2 linked regions of the Homo sapiens genome follow. The protein of the gene in region 1 interacts with the protein of each later gene in a pairwise test. Each region holds a gene or a part of one and is shown in the gene's direction. Other genes may lie near its edges.

The links. The genes of interacting proteins can lie anywhere in the genome.
Region 2: the proteins of CTDSPL (region 1) and FGFR2 interact in a two-hybrid assay, tested with the Homo sapiens proteins (one study listed by BioGRID and IntAct).

Annotation. Positions count from the first base shown.
Region 1 is NC_000003.12:37,863,636-37,869,247, forward strand, and holds part of CTDSPL (CTD small phosphatase-like protein), read left to right. Parts: intron 1-5,612. UniProt on the Homo sapiens protein: Recruited by REST to neuronal genes that contain RE-1 elements, leading to neuronal gene silencing in non-neuronal cells.
Region 2 is NC_000010.11:121,477,509-121,481,659, reverse strand, and holds the end of FGFR2 (fibroblast growth factor receptor 2 isoform 1 precursor), read left to right. Parts: intron 1-1,546; coding exon of another isoform or gene 1,547-1,609; exon of another isoform or gene 1,610-1,638; coding exon 1,639-1,803; 3' UTR 1,804-1,989; coding exon of another isoform or gene 1,990-2,079; 3' UTR 2,080-3,328; downstream 3,329-4,151. UniProt on the Homo sapiens protein: Tyrosine-protein kinase that acts as a cell-surface receptor for fibroblast growth factors and plays an essential role in the regulation of cell proliferation, differentiation, migration and apoptosis, and in the regulation of embryonic development.

The DNA of each region.
Region 1 (5,612 bases):
ATTTCTTTCTAGGGGCTCCCACCTTTGCTGTGCCAGTGGGTGAGGTGTGCAGCCCCTGCTAGAAATCTGCGTGGGAGTGAGGGGAATATTCTGCCTCTCCTCAGGCAGAGGCCACTGGGCAAGCCCGTCAGAAAAACGGAAGGAACCAGCAGGTACCCTCAGGTTGGGCATTTGTCAACCTGTTTGCAGTTTCGTAGACCACAAACATTGTATGTGTCTGCAGACTGGATTTCTTTTATGTAAAATAAAGAATTCAAACTCTCTCAGGCATTTTTCTGTGCCTTTCAGATGGTCTAAAAAATTCTGCAAGAGAGTGCTCCAGGTAAATCCCCGTATTTCTCTGGGACCCAAGTGGGCAGCTGCTTGGTGATCTGGACTTCCTGCCATAGGGGCTGTTAGTTCTTGGAGCCCTGGCTGGGTGTGTGCCCTCAGGGAGCGTTTGGTTGGAGGCATCAAGGAGGTTTGCTTCCTGTGCTCCTTACCAGCTGTGGATTGAGTGCTTTGTGTGATGCTTTGCCAGAGAGAATCCACAGCTCTTTGAGGAGAGGTGTGGCACAAAGCAGGGAAATATTTGTCAGAGCCTCAGACCTCCTGCTGCCCCCCACCTGACTCCAGGAGCAGGAGCAGGAGCTCTGCCAACTTTCCCTTTTCCTCTAGGTGCTAGGATTTTTAAAACAAAGAATCAATCTATCCAAAATCCAAACCATGTACAAATACTCCAGGATAGTGCTTGTTCTATTCAACTTGTTTACATTACTTTTCATGACAATCTTTTATTATCTTTAGCAGCCTATTTTGTTTGCCAGTGTCAGATTGGTTGTTTGTTAACCGATTAGAGGAATTCTTTACCTGCAGCCCTGGGGTGGGGTGGTTGGCTAGTAGGTCCTTCTTGCTGAAGCATTGAAATCCTACTCAATTTAGTTCTTCACTTTAAAAAATGGAAATAATTTTGGTTACCTATAATGTCGCAATAAACTCTAGAGTCAAATGTTGGAATAATTTCTTCAGATTTATAAACCAGTAAACCGGTTCAGCAATGTTTCTAGCTTAAGCATGTTGATATCTTCAGATGGGCACATAAAATTATGTAAAATACATTTTTACATAATTTTACATTATGTAAAAATGTATTTTACATAATTTTATTTTGAGATAATTATTTTGTTTTAAAAATATTGGGCCTGGAATATTTTAAATATTTAAGTTTTATAATAGGGAAGAAACTATTGCTTTTACATGTTTACTTTCATCATTTATTCTGTAAAATAGGAATAGTAATGACTACCTCTGGGGTGTGACCTGAGGGTTCAAAGAGATGATGTACATTAAAGACTCTGCCTGGTTCACCACTGTGTCATGATTCCATAAATCTTTCTTTAGATACAGATTTACAAAGGAAGTACTAAGCATGGGCTGTGGTGTTTTGCACCAAGTTGAATTACTTCTTGACACATTGCCACGTGGTGGTGCACAACTCAGAGATGACTGTCACTGTCAGCCTGGCCTGTCACAGAATGCTCATATCTTACAGTTGTGTTTGATTTGGTTGATAATGTCAAGATAAAGAGACAAATTTCCCTGTAAGTTTAACTCAGCCTACTTTGCAATCTGGAAATTTCCTCTTACACATTAATAGGAAAATGTCCAACAGTACAGTAGAAAAGTGGACAAGAGTTAGGAACAAGAAAGTCGTAGAGGAAGAAATCTGAATGGCCAATAAATATATGAAATTGTGCTCTACTTCATGTGAAACCTTTTCATGCATCAGCTTGGTTAAACATTTAAATGACTGCCAATGTTCAAAGTAGACAAAGGTTTGGAAAATGACTTAATAGACTTTTGTGAGAGAATAAAGTGAGTACAGAGTTTTTAGAGAGTAATTTAATACTGAATCAATTAGGAACACATTTGGCTGCAAGTAACAGAAAACCAGATTTACTGCAGCTTAAACCAATAGGAGTTTATTCTTCCCACATAATAAGCTGTCTGAGGTAGGCTGCTGATAGCTTTTTCAGCAACTCATTGATACCAGGGCCAACATCATAGTGATTCTCCTGGTTTTCCCTCATGTTATAGCATGGCTGCCACCCTTCCAAACACCACAGCCACCTTTAGGGCTGGAAAAAGAGTGCCAGTCTTGTGTATTCCTTTTACCTGGAAAGCAGAAACGCAAAAACATTCCTAGGGACCACCCAGAAAACTTTGCTGATGTTTAATTGGCCAGAACCAGGCCACATGGCTACCCCTTGCTGCAAACAGAGTGAGGAAAGTGAGTTTCCAGCTTTTAAACCAGCCTTTGCTGTGGGAGGCAGGAGGGGAGAAGATTGAAAATAGGTGGGAACAGGTATTGGTTCAGCCAAACAGCAGTATTGACCACACATTGAAAGCTCCTGTTCTACTTCTGAGTTTCTGTTCTAGAGAAATAACCTCATTTGTGCTCAAAGAAACATGTACAAGGATTTTCACTTAATGGCTACATTGCTTGCAATAGCAAGTATTAGAACCATCCTAAGTGTCAGTAGGTGAATGGTTAGGCTATGATACATCATTAGCAGAATACTGTGAGGCAGTTGAAAAGAATGAGCTAAATTAAATCTAAACATACAGATAGGTGAATTTTCAAGACATTTTAAAGCAGGAAAAATTTTGAAGAACAGTATAAACAGTATGGTTCCTACCTTTGTAAAAAAAAAATCACACATACACACAACTGTATATTTGTTTAGAAATACAGAAAAAGTAATATGGAAGGAAATAAGCTGACAACAAATATTCCTCTGGGAGAAGACTGGACAACAAAGATTCCTCTAGGGAGAGGAAACTTTGCCTTTTGTTTAAATATTAATGAAATATACTCATTTTACAGATGAAATTTTTTAACTAAAAAAAGAAATTTCCCATAGCTCTTTGAAGGGAAAGAAATAATTTGAGGGAATTGAACAATAATAAAACCAAAAAAATCTCAATTAGTATGCAGTATTAGCAAGAACATATCAATGACATCTAAACAGTTAATTATTTTGTAAGCTAATATGTGTCCTTGATGAGATTTCTGCAGGAAAATTTGTTTGGGCAGATATTTTTGCCTAAGGTGCTAGGTGTGTTTCCTTTAAATGTTTGTAATACTCAGTGTTAATTCAGAAACTTTAAGCTTTGGGCTGCTAACAAAATTATAGCAAAGAGAAGACTTTTGGAAGCAATAATTATTTCAGATGACAGAAGCAGATTTATAGTAGATTCAGACTAACTTTTTTATATTAAACTTTTTATTTGGAGATAACTGTAAATTTACATGCAGTTTTAAGAAGTCACAGAGACTTTCTATGCCCTCTACCCGGTTTCTCTTATTACTGACATCTTGTAAAACTGTATAGTATCACATCAGGATGTTGACATTGATATAGTCAAGGTATAGAAAAATTTCATCATCAGGAGGATCCCTCCTGTTGCCCTTCAGAGTCACACTGCTTCCCTCCCATGCCCACCCTGCTCCATATCCCACTGGTGACCACTAATCCACTCTACATTTCTAAAATTTTATCTTTTTAGGAACATTATCTAAATGGAATCAAACAGTATGTGATCTTTTGGAATTGCTTTTTTTCACTCAACATAATTATCTGGAGATTCATCCAGGTTGTTCCTTGTATTAATCTTTTTTTTTAAATTGCTCAATTGTATTCCATGACATGGATATACCACAGTTTGTTTAACCATTCACGCTTTGAATGATCTGTACATTGTTTCTAGATGTTGAGTATTATGAATAAAGCTGCAATAAACATTGGTATACATGTTTTTGTTTGAACCTAAGTCTTCATATCTCTGGGATAAATGCCCAGTGTGCAATTGCTGGATCATATGGTAGTTGCATGTTTACTTTTTAAAGAAACTGCCAAACTGTTTTCTTGAGTAAATGTAGCATTTTACATACCCACCAGCAATGTATAAGTGATCCAGTTTCTCTGCATCCTCACCAGCATTTGGTGTTGTCACTGTTTTTAAAAATTTTTATTTTGAAATAATTATAGACTCGAAAGAAGTTGCAAAAATAATACAGAGAGGTCCCATGTACCCATCACCTAGTGTCCCCTAACGCTAACGTCTTATATAATTGTATATTTCATTATCAAAACCAGGAAATTGACATTGGCAAATACAGTTGTTTAGACTACAGACCTTACTCACATTTCACCAGTTTTTGCATGAATTCATTTTTTGTAGCTTTATGCATCTTTAACACATTTATGTTTGTATAGCCACCATCACAAGCTACAGAACTCGTTTGTCACCACAAAGGAACTCCTTTGAGTTACCTTTTTCATTTCTTTTTTAAAAACTGATATATAATATTTGTACATTTTTCTGAGGTACATATGATATTTTATATGCATAGAATAGTGTAATGATCAAGTCAGGGTATTTAGGGTATCCATCACCTTGAGTAATTATCACTTCACTATTTTTCATATTAGCCATTCTGATATGTGGTGGTAGCTTATTACGGTTTTAATTTGCATTTCCCTGATGGCTAATGATGTTGAACATCTTTTCATGTGCTTATTTTTCTTCTATATATCTTCTTTGATGAGCTGTCCCTTCATGTCTTTTGCCCATGTTCTAATTGGATTTTTTTAAACCGTCAAGTTTTGAGAATTTTTATATATTATAGATATTAGTCCTTTTTCAGATATGTGGTTTGCAAGTATTTCTTCTAGCCTATAGCTTGGCTTTTCATCCTCTAAAGAGCCTTTTTCAGAGCAAAAGTTTTAAATTTTGATAAGGTGCAATATATAAATATTTCCTTTTATTGATTGTGCTTTTGGTGTCAAATCTAAGAACTCTCTGCCTAGCACTAGATCCCGAAGGTTTTCTCCTACGCTTTTTCCAAGTTTTATAATTTTACATTAAATTTAAGTTCATGATCCATTCTGAGTCCATTTTTTAATAAGGCGTGAAACTTTGGTTTGGTTTTTTGTCTCTGAGTGTCTGGTTGCTTCAGCTACATTTGTTGAAAAAGTTATCTGTCCTTCCTCCTTTGAATTTCTTTTGCATCTTTGTCAAAAATTAGTTGGGCATATTTATGTGGGTCTGTTTCTGGGTTTATTTATTTTGTCCCACTGATCTATATGTCCATCCCCCTGCCTATACTATATAATCTTGATTTCTGTAGCTAAATAATAAGTCATGATATAGAGTAGACTGATGCTTCCAACTTTTGTTCTTTTTCAAAATTGTTTTAGCTGTTCTAGTTTTGTTGCCACATTATGTAAATTTTACAATACTCTTGTCTATATCTACAAATATCTTCCTGAGATTTTGATAGGAATTTAATTAAACCTGTGTATCAATTTGAGGAGAACTGACATCTTTTCTAGATTAAGTCTTCCAATCCATGAACACAGTACGTCTCTCTATTTATTTAGATCTTTGATTCTGCCATTAGGCTTTCAGCATACAAGTCCTATTAATATTTTATTAGATTTACATCTGAGTGTTCTTTTTAAACTATACATATTTTAATTGATACATCATAGTTTTACATATTTATAGGGTATATAATCATATAAACACATTGCGTAGTGATCAGATCAAGGTAATTAGCATATCCA
Region 2 (4,151 bases), on another chromosome or scaffold:
ATCGAAGTTTCTTTCCTTCTGAAAATCATTACCATATGCTCAAGAAAAACGGTTCCATTTAGGACAAAATTTCGTTTTTATCATTGTAAGCAAAAAGTTCTCTTTTGATGTGGTGGGCGTGTTTGTTTCCAGTTGTGTGGTTAATGCTGATGTTGTTGGAACTGATACATTCCCCTTCTGGGATGCTGGGATGGGGACTCTTTCTCTTGCCAACCCTGGTGATGAATTAGAGGGTTTTGTGTGTGTGTGTGTGTGTGTGTGTGTGTGTGTCTTTAAAAATGTCTAGTTGCCAACATTCCATGGGCTCTTTTCTGATAACACTGAGGCTGTTTGTGCTGTGGTCTGCACTTTTTGCCCCCTCTCAGCAAAACCACATGTCATAGAATAGTTGTTGGCTTCTGGATGTGTGAGCAGAACTGCCCCACTGTGCCAGCCCAGTGGAGGCAGAGAGACCCACAAGTTCCCAATTTAGAAAGCTTTTCATAGCTTCAGAACAGGGGTCGGCAACTGCTTTCTGTAAAGGGCCAGGGAGTAAATATTTTCAGCTTTGCCGGCCCTGTGGTCTCTGTTGCAACTTCGCCACTGTAGCCTCAAAGTAGCCACAGACAATATGTAAATAGATGTGTTCTAGTCTGTCTTCTAGTAAAATTTTATGGATCCTGAAATTGGAATTTTATATAATTGTATATAAATTTTATTCATTTTAATCCTATAAGATATTCTTCTTCTTTTGATTTTTTTTTTCAACCGCTTACCAATGTTAAAGACCATCTTTAGCCCTCAGGCCATACAAAGTCGTCTGTGGGCACCCAAGTCGGAGGAAGTGTCACCCTGGGGTGATCCAGAGGGCTTTTTGCAGCACCAGCACTGGATGCCTTGGGGAGCAAAGGACACTTTCTGAATCTCGAACCTTCAAAACTTTGAAACTTAACCGATATTTTCCTGAAGTTTCCTTTAACAGTGCATTATGGATTTAACATACATGAGTATGTCTAAGCCTTTTTTGAACCTGTTTACATTTTCAACTCGGAGAGCTTCTGAGAGTAATCAGTTACATCTGTTAAATTACCCACTGAATGAAGAAGTATTCCCCTTCAATTATCCCCGAAACTACAATAGTAAAATGTAATTCAGAAAATAAATATTCATAGTCTCAACTACTTAAAGGGGGTCTGGGGACCCACAACATGTTACCGGTTTTCATTTTGCTGGGGCTCGCATTTGAAGCAAGGGCTCTAGTGAGGAGGTGGTGTAGACTCAGCGGGTTATTTAGGTCCGTGTGAAGCCGAGTTGCCTGCCCAGCACCTATAGCTCAACTAGGTTTTATTGTTCTCTACCTGTCAATAGTTGATTTATGATGGATTCCAAGAGAAAAGCTAAGGACAGCCTGGGGTACATCAGACGTGGTCTCAGGGAGGTCTTCGTGGAAGTCAGGTGGGCTGGGTCTCTGTTCACCTTCTAGGGGTCTCCTGTCCTGTCCCACGTCCAATACCCACATCTCAAGAGTTTGTGTTTGAAATAAAACTCTTCTCTTCCCTTCTTTCAGGAATACTTGGACCTCAGTCAGCCTCTCGAACCGTATTCACCTTGTTATCCTGACCCAAGATGAAATAAAACGTCTCTCTTCCCTTCTTTCAGGAATACTTGGACCTCAGCCAACCTCTCGAACAGTATTCACCTAGTTACCCTGACACAAGAAGTTCTTGTTCTTCAGGAGATGATTCTGTTTTTTCTCCAGACCCCATGCCTTACGAACCATGCCTTCCTCAGTATCCACACATAAACGGCAGTGTTAAAACATGAATGACTGTGTCTGCCTGTCCCCAAACAGGACAGCACTGGGAACCTAGCTACACTGAGCAGGGAGACCATGCCTCCCAGAGCTTGTTGTCTCCACTTGTATATATGGATCAGAGGAGTAAATAATTGGAAAAGTAATCAGCATATGTGTAAAGATTTATACAGTTGAAAACTTGTAATCTTCCCCAGGAGGAGAAGAAGGTTTCTGGAGCAGTGGACTGCCACAAGCCACCATGTAACCCCTCTCACCTGCCGTGCGTACTGGCTGTGGACCAGTAGGACTCAAGGTGGACGTGCGTTCTGCCTTCCTTGTTAATTTTGTAATAATTGGAGAAGATTTATGTCAGCACACACTTACAGAGCACAAATGCAGTATATAGGTGCTGGATGTATGTAAATATATTCAAATTATGTATAAATATATATTATATATTTACAAGGAGTTATTTTTTGTATTGATTTTAAATGGATGTCCCAATGCACCTAGAAAATTGGTCTCTCTTTTTTTAATAGCTATTTGCTAAATGCTGTTCTTACACATAATTTCTTAATTTTCACCGAGCAGAGGTGGAAAAATACTTTTGCTTTCAGGGAAAATGGTATAACGTTAATTTATTAATAAATTGGTAATATACAAAACAATTAATCATTTATAGTTTTTTTTGTAATTTAAGTGGCATTTCTATGCAGGCAGCACAGCAGACTAGTTAATCTATTGCTTGGACTTAACTAGTTATCAGATCCTTTGAAAAGAGAATATTTACAATATATGACTAATTTGGGGAAAATGAAGTTTTGATTTATTTGTGTTTAAATGCTGCTGTCAGACGATTGTTCTTAGACCTCCTAAATGCCCCATATTAAAAGAACTCATTCATAGGAAGGTGTTTCATTTTGGTGTGCAACCCTGTCATTACGTCAACGCAACGTCTAACTGGACTTCCCAAGATAAATGGTACCAGCGTCCTCTTAAAAGATGCCTTAATCCATTCCTTGAGGACAGACCTTAGTTGAAATGATAGCAGAATGTGCTTCTCTCTGGCAGCTGGCCTTCTGCTTCTGAGTTGCACATTAATCAGATTAGCCTGTATTCTCTTCAGTGAATTTTGATAATGGCTTCCAGACTCTTTGGCGTTGGAGACGCCTGTTAGGATCTTCAAGTCCCATCATAGAAAATTGAAACACAGAGTTGTTCTGCTGATAGTTTTGGGGATACGTCCATCTTTTTAAGGGATTGCTTTCATCTAATTCTGGCAGGACCTCACCAAAAGATCCAGCCTCATACCTACATCAGACAAAATATCGCCGTTGTTCCTTCTGTACTAAAGTATTGTGTTTTGCTTTGGAAACACCCACTCACTTTGCAATAGCCGTGCAAGATGAATGCAGATTACACTGATCTTATGTGTTACAAAATTGGAGAAAGTATTTAATAAAACCTGTTAATTTTTATACTGACAATAAAAATGTTTCTACAGATATTAATGTTAACAAGACAAAATAAATGTCACGCAACTTATTTTTTTAATACTCGTGTCTTACCAAATGGTTTCCTGTGCTTGGAGGTGCTGACTGAGTGCTGTTGTGAATGCAGGAAGGGCAGGGCTGCCAAGGGTCTTATGTGCTACACACGGGGGTGACTTGCCAGAGGGGTTGACTGAGACCAGCAGTACCTGTGACAGGTTGAGGTTGATCCAGTGGAAAATCTGAATCAGTTGGTTGGAGCCCTGGCTCGGTTGCTTACTGGCACCTCAATGGAATCATCGTTCCTTTCTGAGCCCTACCAGTTCCCCAGAGGAGCAAACAAAGAGCCACATGGTAGAGAGCTTTGCAAACTGGAAGGTGACCTAAGGATGACAGGTATTGAGTAGGGAAGACGTTCAGAACATCTGAATCCTGGGGACTTAAAAACCTTTTAGGCTGTTTTCTTCATGATGTATGGAGAGAAGGATTTGCTTCAAATTTTCCAAAAGAAAACTTGGACAAATGTTCGAATAATTATTTATTTTCATACCACCAACGATCTGAAGAGGGAAATGGAGTTTTGCCTGTCAGTTAACAAATGTGAATCTGTGACTCTTAAGGGTCTGTTGTATCTACTTGCCAGCCTCATCAGCAGCAGGAAAGGGAATTGAACATAGGCCAACTTCTCCTGCACTTCAGCCAGGCTCTTAGAACCTTACAGGGCCATTGGTAAAGAGTGCTGTCTTTGGGGTCTTCTTTCTGTTTGAGGCCATTCATGGTGGAGCAAGGTGTCACCAGCCATCAGGGGAGTGGCCTAGGGTCCTGGTTCTGTATTTCCCAAACCTCTGTCCTTCTGTTTCTTACAGGATAACAGGGCTCTTGGGAAT